Linked DNA regions of Homo sapiens: region 2 is linked to region 1. The links come from fine-mapping of genetic effects on gene expression. A gene starts in region 1. The other region holds a variant in brackets. All regions are shown on one strand. Distances are from middle to middle. Region 1 holds the start of LINC01579 (long intergenic non-protein coding RNA 1579). Region 2 overlaps LOC105370982 (a long non-coding RNA gene).

The links.
Region 2: its variant is fine-mapped to the expression of LINC01579 in prefrontal cortex (CommonMind, PIP 0.95).

What each region holds. Positions count from the first base shown.
Region 1 is chr15:93,898,004-93,902,400 of GRCh38, forward strand. It overlaps LINC01579 (long intergenic non-protein coding RNA 1579), which reads right to left and starts at 2,596. Exons shown (of 4, transcript NR_138083.1): 1 at 2,348-2,596; 2 at 2,033-2,132; 3 at 1,261-1,333. LINC01580 (long intergenic non-protein coding RNA 1580) reads left to right here and starts at 2,698. Exons shown (of 3, transcript NR_120323.1): 1 at 2,698-2,775.
Region 2 is chr15:93,219,158-93,223,554 of GRCh38, forward strand. It overlaps LOC105370982 (a long non-coding RNA gene), which reads left to right. Exons shown (of 7, transcript XR_007064770.1): 2 at 497-627. Among named protein-coding and RNA genes, the nearest start is that of RGMA, 130 kb to the left of the region's middle. The variant C/T (reference allele first, on the strand shown) is at 2,514.

The sequences.
Region 1 (4,397 bases):
TACTAACCCTAATCCTCACTCTGTCCTAAATAAGTATACACTCTACATATACTCTCAGTGACCAAAAATGAGGGTAAATTATGATCTATGCATCCATTTAAAAGTACACTGTTAGGCAGAAGGAATAAATTCTAGTGCTTGACGGCGCAGAAGGTTAACTGTAGTTAACAATATGTTGTATATTTCAAAATAGCTAGAAGAAAAGATATGAAATGTTCTCAACACAAAGAAATGGTAAATATTCCAGGTGATGGATATCTTAAATACCCTGACTTGGTCATTACACATTCTATATGTGTACCAAAATTTCTCATGTCCCCCATAAATATGTGCAAATATTATGTATCAATAAGTAATAAAAATAGTAAAAAGGGTTTTGCCTGAAAACAAGGAAATAATTACAGTATTCAGTATGAATTTTGTAAATATATATATAAAAGGTTTCACTGGGCACTATTGGAAAAGGTACACTTTTGAAGAATGAGTATTTTTTGAGATGGTCACACTATTTTGCTAAATAAAAATAAACAATTGACAAAAAATTGTGTGTATAAAACTAAAAGGATAGACATCAACATGTATGTACCATGATGTCCTAGAGGTAGAAGGATTATGTGTGATTACATAAAGGATCACTTTTTATAACTTCATGTATTACAGATTTCCTACTCTGAATATTATGCCTTAATTTTTAAATTAGAAAAGATGGCATCTATGAAAAATACCATTAACATCCATAGATAATACCCCTCCTACATCCCCTCATAAAAATTTAAGATTTTGTTAGGGATTTGCTCATATGGAAAATAACAGACAAAAAAAGTAGGTTAGCTCAGGGCAGTCAGTGATGGAAAGTCAAACATGCCAAGTGGCCAGCATGGAGTAGAGTGTCAGGAAAGGTGGATGGAGGCAGAGTGTGGCCAGCACAGCCATCTCTACTCCTTTTTGTTTGTTTGTTTGTTTGTTTTTGAGACAGAGTCTCACTGTGTCACCCAGGATGGAGTGCAATGCCGCTATCTCGGCTACCTGCAACCTCCGCCTCCCGGGTTCAAGCGATTCTCTTGCCTCCGCCTCCCAAGTAGCTGGGACTACAGGTACACTACCACACCCGGCTGATTTTTTTTTTTTTTTAGTAGAGATGGGGTTTCACCGTGTTAGCCAGGATGGTCTCGGTGTCCTGACCTCATAATCCGCCCGTCTCGCCCTCCCAAAGTGCTGGGGTTACAGGCGTGAGCCACCGCGACGGGCCGCCATCCCTACCGTTTACAGACAGCGTCCATCTCACTGGTGGGTCCCTATGCAGTCCAACTTGCTCCACGTCTGAATGTCAGTCCTAGATACAAAGCAGAGAAGTTTAAAGTAGGGAATGGCTTCTTTTTTCCTTTTACAAAACATAATGATGGTAAGACACAATATTGGAGCTGGGATGAAGGAGAAGTAGATATAAAGATATGGAGGGGCATCCCTTAAGGGATATAAATAGTTTCACAGATGAAATGCCTAAAGGAGAGAGAGGAGAGACAGATGAGGAGACAATTATCTCAAAGGAGGAAAATGGTCAAAAGGCAAAGAATAATGTGTGTGAACTCTCCGGTGCATGGTAAGTACTATAAATATCTTAGTTGTACTAGTGTTAGTCAATCAAGTATTTGTAGTTGCTGTTCCTACAACGATTTTAACTGCTACTGTAACTACTCTCACTGCTATTAAGACAACTATTATAACTATTGTTATAACTACTACGTCTGCTAGTACAATAACTACTATTATGACTGCTACCACAGCTACTATTACTGCTGTCATGGGATCCTTGAGGTGTCGTTTCATCAGCCAGAAACCTCTGTTGCTGGCAGCACCTTCTGCCTGAGTATTGCTCGTGCCCACTGGGCTTGTTCCGCCCACTTGGCCCGGTAGGCTGTGCTTGGCTCCCGCCACCAGCCCAGATCCCACACCTGCCCAGGGAGAGCTAGGCGCGGAGCCGCAAGGGGTGTGTGGGTGAACGAGCGCAGGGACCGGCAACAGCCATACATACCGGCTGCTGCAGTGGGGCTGGCAGCTCCAGGCGCCAGCACAGTTGTGGCTCTGCGTGAGGCTGGACCAGATGGACGGCATGTGGATTCTGCTGTGGGCACCTGTTTGGATGAAGGGAACGAAGGTGGTGGCGCCTGGAAGCTTGAAGATGCCAGGAACCATAGAACCCCAAAGGGAGTGTCACAGCCCTGGCTCAGGGAGACCCTAGGTCTGGGATCCTCAAAGGAACACAGCTCTTTTCTCCTTCTCGTCACCCGCAATGTGGCAAGCAAGGGAGCGTGTTTCAGCCCTGTTTGTGTTAAAGCTCTTTTAGTACCTCCAGGCGGGTCCTGAGTTCTTGTCCTGCGTCCAGGGAGATGAGGTATTGCGGACAAATGGAGGCTTAGCAAGATGGAGAAGAGCTTTATTGAGTGGCAGAACAGCTCTCAGTAGACCTGAAGCAGGTAGCTCCTTTCTGCAGGAAGGTTGTCTCTCCTTTCCGCAGGAAGGTTGTCCCAACAAGTTGAGAAGACGCACAGTGGGCAGCTCCTTCCCGCAGCTGGTACTTCCGACTTCGCGTGACTCCGGCTGCGTCCGGGGAGCGGGGTTTTTATGGGTTCAGAAGGGAGGAAGTGCATGCTGATTGGTCCATGGGTGGCCATGGGCGGGCCTGGAAAAAGAACCATTAGTGCTCACTCCAGGCCACAGACTCCGACCGGAACTGACAGCGCGGCCTCCAGGATTGAAGCCATCCCTGGCTTGAAGGTGGGGCTTCACTGGGACCCGTCCCTTTCTGTCCAGTAGCCTGTCTTCCTTTTGCTGCCATCAACGTGCCCTCCACAGCACCCAGGCTGTTCGTTTTGAAGGGCGCCTCTAGGCCTGAGCCCAGCAGCCCACAGCGCCTCCTCGCCTCTCTCCCGTGCTCATCAGTGCCCAAAGTCCAGAGGGGGCTGAGGAGGCAGGGGGCTGGTGTAACAGCGCCTCCCTGAGCATGCGCACGCCTGGCCAGGTTGCAGCAGCACCCAGGCTTGGCCATCACTTTGCTCCAAAATTGAAGTGGGCACAGGGAGCAGGCAGAGGCCAGGAATGGGAGCAAGCAGGCACTGCTGAACCTGTGGGGTCAGGGGCTTCCTGGCCCCCCGAAAGCACAGGGATGCCTGGGTCTGCGGCGGCAGCTCTGCAGCTGTGCCCCTAGCACGGGTTCCCCACCCTTTAGCTCGGTAGGGGGCGGGACCCCTGCCTGTTCCCAGCTCCCCCCGCCCCGGCCCTCCACCCACCCTGGCTTTGCTGAGTGCGCAGCTCTGGCGGCACCTCCCCTGGTGCAGCCGGTGTCTTTGCAGCGGCCGCTCCAGACAGGTGGCCGGTGCCATCACTGCTGCTACTACAATTACTATTGTGACTACTTCTGTAACTATGGTCATTCTATTTTATAGGGTTGTTATGAAAGTCACTATATGTAAAGCTCATACATATGTGCTTGGCACACTGTATGCCCGTAATAACTCTACAGCATGTCTATGTGTCTATTTTTATTTATGTATTTTTCTTTTCTTTCTTCTTCTCTTTCTTCCTTCTTGTTTTTTGTTTTTTGTTTTTGTTTGTTTGAGAAATACAGGGTCTCACTTTGTTGCTTTATTGCCCAGGCTGGAGTGCAGTGGTGTGATTATGGCTCACTTCAGCCTCAACCTCCTGGGCTCAAGCAGTCCTCCCACTTCAGCCTCCCAAGTAGCTGGGACTACAGGTGCGATACACCATGCCTGGCTACTTTTTTTTTGTTATTTATAGAGATGGGTTCTCACTATGTTGTCCAGCCTGGTCTTGACTCTTGGGCTGAAGCAATTATCCTGCCTCAGCCTCCCAAAGTGCTGGAATTACAGGTGTGAGATACCACACCTGGCCTGTGTAGCGTGTTTACAAGTGGATTGTTTGAACCTTATTTTTATGGTAGCATTTACATACAAGGTTGTAGAGATATATTGGGAGAAAATTGTCTTACGGTCCTGAATGCCAGGGAGTTTGGATTTAAATTTTAAAGGAATCCATCAAATTTGTAACTAGGGAGTGAAAACTTATATACTGCTAGTTGAGGAAGACTAAATCTGACAGTAAAGTACAGCCTAAAAACAGAAAAAAAAAGTGAAATAGAAAATTTTATTACAATGCTATCATACTAGTTCAGGCATGAGCTAATAAAAGCCTGAAATGAAACAGGGACCATGGGGATTGAAGGGCTTGCATGAATATCAGCAGCAGCTTCAAGTGGAGAATCTTTCATCAGAAAAGGAGAAAAATAAGGTAACTCAAGTCCTCAAATCTGAGTGCAATAGACAATGGATATTCCCCCAATATGAAAGTATTGGTTAGTAAGAAAACCCATGAATTTAGTA
Region 2 (4,397 bases), 680 kb before region 1:
TGTGGGTAGTGCATATGTGCATAGATTCCTGTCAGCACTGCCATGTGCTCTGCAGGCCACGTGAGTGAAGTGAAGAGGGGTAGATTAGGCCTGCATTCTGCCATGTCTCTGTTTCTGACTTTTACTTTCAGAAATGACTTGCCTGGGCCCTTCTGTTCCTCCTGCCTCTCAAGCCAACCCCTGCACTATAGTACAGGCCCAAACAAAGCTGAGAGAGAGAGTGTGTGTGCATGAGAGAGAGATTGAGTGTGTATGTGAAGGGTGACAGGTTTGAGAATGAAAGCAAGATCCAAGCCCACTGGCCCAAGCACACTGGATCCAAGCGCAGTCTTGGCCCTACCTATGTGACTTAAAAAAAAATCGCAAATGTGGACTGGACAACATTTATTGAGCAATTACTATGCTCCTCTCACTGTGCAATGCAATTTCTTCTGTTTCATCTCATTTCATTTTCACTGCCACCCTGCAAGTTCGTGTTGTTGCTGTCATTTTACAGACAAGGAATGCAAAGCTCACGGATGCCGAGGAATTTATCCAAGATCACTGTGATGGGATGGGAACTTTGGTTTTCAGCCTTTAAATACATTGGTGCAGAAGTCCAAGAAAGATGCTTGGAAAGACCTAGTGGTACGTAGCTTCATGTAAACCATCACCCCTTTGAATAAAAGCTAGGCAATCCCTCTGCCGCATTTTAAGTTATTATTATTATTATTATTATTTTTGCTCCAGGGTGGAGGGCAAATAAAATGTTAGCAGCCTTCTCTTGCCTTGGCTTTGGAGGCCGACTCCTCTGAGCAGGTGGCTGGTGCTTGCAGATGTGGTTGAACCTGCACATCTGGCACACATTAATCCATGGACAGGACATGCTATTACAGTCCTAATGAAATTTGGGTCTGCTGCATTTCCATAAGCCACCCAAGGAAGCAGGATTCCTGGCATTTTGTCAGAAGTAAAAGCCTGGAAGATATAGAACAATTTCTATCATCATGATGGATGAGGTTATTTTCATCTTGTACAAAGTTACTCCCAATTGAAAGGTTGGAGACAAGATAGCTCTTGATTAAATGAAAATTGTGCCTGACTAGGACATAAATTATGTAGTGGAGCAGCAAAAAAATCTGAATGTGCTTTTATGAGCTCAGTCCCCATCATGGTTTAACTCAGAGAAAAAACCTTTTCCTCCTTTGCAAGGATGTCCACGGCTACATGGTTGAAGCATTGCCCTGAAGGAATACTGTGTGGTTGGAGTTTTGGTAATGGGCATGAGCTGCTTTGGTTAATAATATTTTCATTCTGTATCTGCATCTCTTTGTTTTGTGCTTTTTAATCCATATAGACCTGTCCCCCACCACACCCACACCCAGAGGTCCTATTTCTATATCTTATGGGGTACATTTGCTTGGCCTGTGACTCTGTGAATTGTCCTCCCATCCTCATCCATCCATCTCCTGTTCCCATATATATATGAAGTATACAGTTTCCTCTTTCCCCACCAGCCCATAGGCTAGATAATTGAAGCAGGAGGGGACAACACAGTGAGATGGAACCCACTCTATTCTTCTAGAAATTTGAATTGAGGAGGGAATGGTAGAAAACGAAGTTCAACAAATATTCCTAGTTCTCCTCTTGAACGCATGGTAGGATTGCGCTTCTTGGCTCCATTGTGATTGGAATAATTCTGACCAAAGTCTTGTGAGCAAAAGGGACATGGGTTATTTTGGAGACACACAAGACCCCCAGAAATCTTTTTCCTTTTGGCATGGCAACCCACTGGGGCCCCACAGCAGCTATGATAAGCAGAGGCTCTGCCAACTCCCCATGGACTGCAGAATGAGTTAGAAATAAAACTGTTTCTGAACCACTGAGATGAGATTATTTGTTACTGCAGCATAATCTAGCTGATCCAGACTGATACACAGGGAGAGAGAAAAAATGTGAGTAAGCAAGAGAAGAGAGAAGGATCAAAATGGAGTTTTCTTAAATCTTGTGGTCTGGAATAGTAATGCATGAACTTGGGAGTGTGGTTGTTGACTTGTTGTCCATTCATGCAGTATGTAACTTTTTGAGTCTGACTTCTTTTATTGGGTATAATGCATTTGAGATTTATCTATCTTGTTGCACATATTAAGTTTGTTTCTTTTTATTGCTAATTTGGAATAGGTAGCAGAGAAGGCTATCCCACAGCTCACAATCATTGCACTGTCAACATTTCTACCCTAACCCCTTATAACCCCAAGATATCACTGACACCTTATTTTGCTTTGGCAAAAAAGAGAGAGAAATTTTTTACTTTTCAAAAAAGTAAAAAAATCTGGAGGTTTCTGGGTAAGCCATAGAGCATTGCAAAAAATCTGTTTATTTCCAAGCAGACTATGAGGATTGGTTAACAGTAATATTATTGTTGCGGGACAATCAAAGATGGGAGAGACCGAACAGAGTGAGTTCAGGAAAGGTCTTTATTAAAAGGTGATCACCTGGCTCAGTAGGACCAGCATCCAGGAAAGTCTGAGCCC[C/T]GGACAAAGAAAGCAGCCACCTTTTAAGCAGTCGGTGGCTGGGAGCTACGTGATGCAGGAAGTGTACTTACAGAATCGAGAACGAAGGCAGTTGATGAGTCTTTTACATTTATCTATACTGTATGTTCCACATCCCTGGGAAACCATGTTTCTGTATCAACCTTGTAACTTTGCAGCTGTGCTAGAGGGGTGAAGCAGGAACTCACCGAGCCTCAAGGAATGTGAAACTGGGGAGTACAGATAGGGCTCGCTGAGCACAGAAGGAAAAACAGGCAGTTAGTATTCTTCTCCAACTTAGACTACGGGGGGCGCTACACTACACTTAGCTTTTGAAGCAAAAAGTAAAAATTTTTGGTTGTTTTTGATTATACTTGTAAAATTCATGAATTCCTTCTTCATTATGAGTGTGTGTCTCAAACTGCAAAACACAGACTCATGTCTGCCAGGGTTATTTGAAGCTCTTGGTGTATTTTTCTGGAGCTCTTGACTCAAATATTTGGAATAAATGCTTAATACTTTGTATTTAAATCTTTTTAAAAATTAAATTTACAACTCAAATGTAGAAAAGTGCACAAATCACAAATGCATGTATCACCAAGTTTTCAAAAACGGAACACACCCTTGTAACAGACCACTCTGACCAAGAAACAGTTACTATTCTCTCAAAGGCACCCACTGCCTCAACTCCTAACACCACTGATTAGTTTTGCCTGTGTCTGTGCCTTTTTTTTTTTTTTTTGAGATGGAGTCTCGCTCTGTCTCCAGGCTAGAGTGCAGTGGCGTGATCTCAGCTCACTGCAACCTCCACCTCCTGGGTTCAAGCAATTCTCCTGCCGCAGCCTCCCGAGTAGCTGGGACTACAGGCGGATGCCACCAAGCCCAGCTAATTTTTGTATTTTTAGTAGAGACGGGGTTTCACCATGTTGGCCAGGATGGTCTCGATCTCTTGACCTCATGATCCACCCGCCTCGGCCTCCCAAAGTGCTGGGATTACCGGTGTGAGCCACCACACCCGGCCACATGTTTGTGCCTTTTTTTTTTTTTTTTTTTTTTTTTTGAGATGGAGTCTCGCTCTGTTGCCCAGGCTGGAGTGCAGTGGCACGATCTCAGTTCACTGCAAGCTACCCCTCCCAGGTCCACACAATTCTCCTGCCTCAGCCTCCCAAGTAGCTGGGACTACAGGCGCCTGCCACCACGCCTGGCTAATTTTTTTGTATTTTTAGTGGAGACGGGGTTTCACCGTGTTAGCCAGGATGGTCTCCATCTCCTGACCTCATGATCCACCTGCCTCAGCCTCCCAAAGTGCTGGGATTACAGGTGTGAGCCACTGCGCACAGCCGGTTTTGCCTTTTATGAGTGAATTCATATATTATGTACGCTTTCGTGTCTAGTTCTATGGCTTAACATTGATTGTGAGTTGTGTAACTATAAGCTGTTTATTCTCATTGCCTTATAGCATTCTGTTGTATAACTGTACCACAATTTATTTATCTGTTCTATAGCTAATGCACATATGGTGGTTTCTGGGGTTTGGCTACTCTGCAGTGCTGTTACATCTTCTGGTGAATATATGTAGGCATTTCTGCTAGGTCTCTATATCTACTCCCAGTGAAAATGCTGAGCGATAGGGTATACATATGTTCACCTGCAGTGCCTACCACCAAATACTTTTTCAAAGAGGTGTATTGCAATTACTTTTATTTTGAATTTAAATATAAATATAGTAAGTTCACTCTTTATTGGTGTACAGTTTATTGTATGGATGTACCATAGGTTGTTTATTCACTTACACATTGAAGGACATTTGGGTTGCTTTTGATTTTTTTGATGGTATGAATAGTGCTGTTATAAATATTTGTGTTTTTGTGTGAACATAAGTTTTTT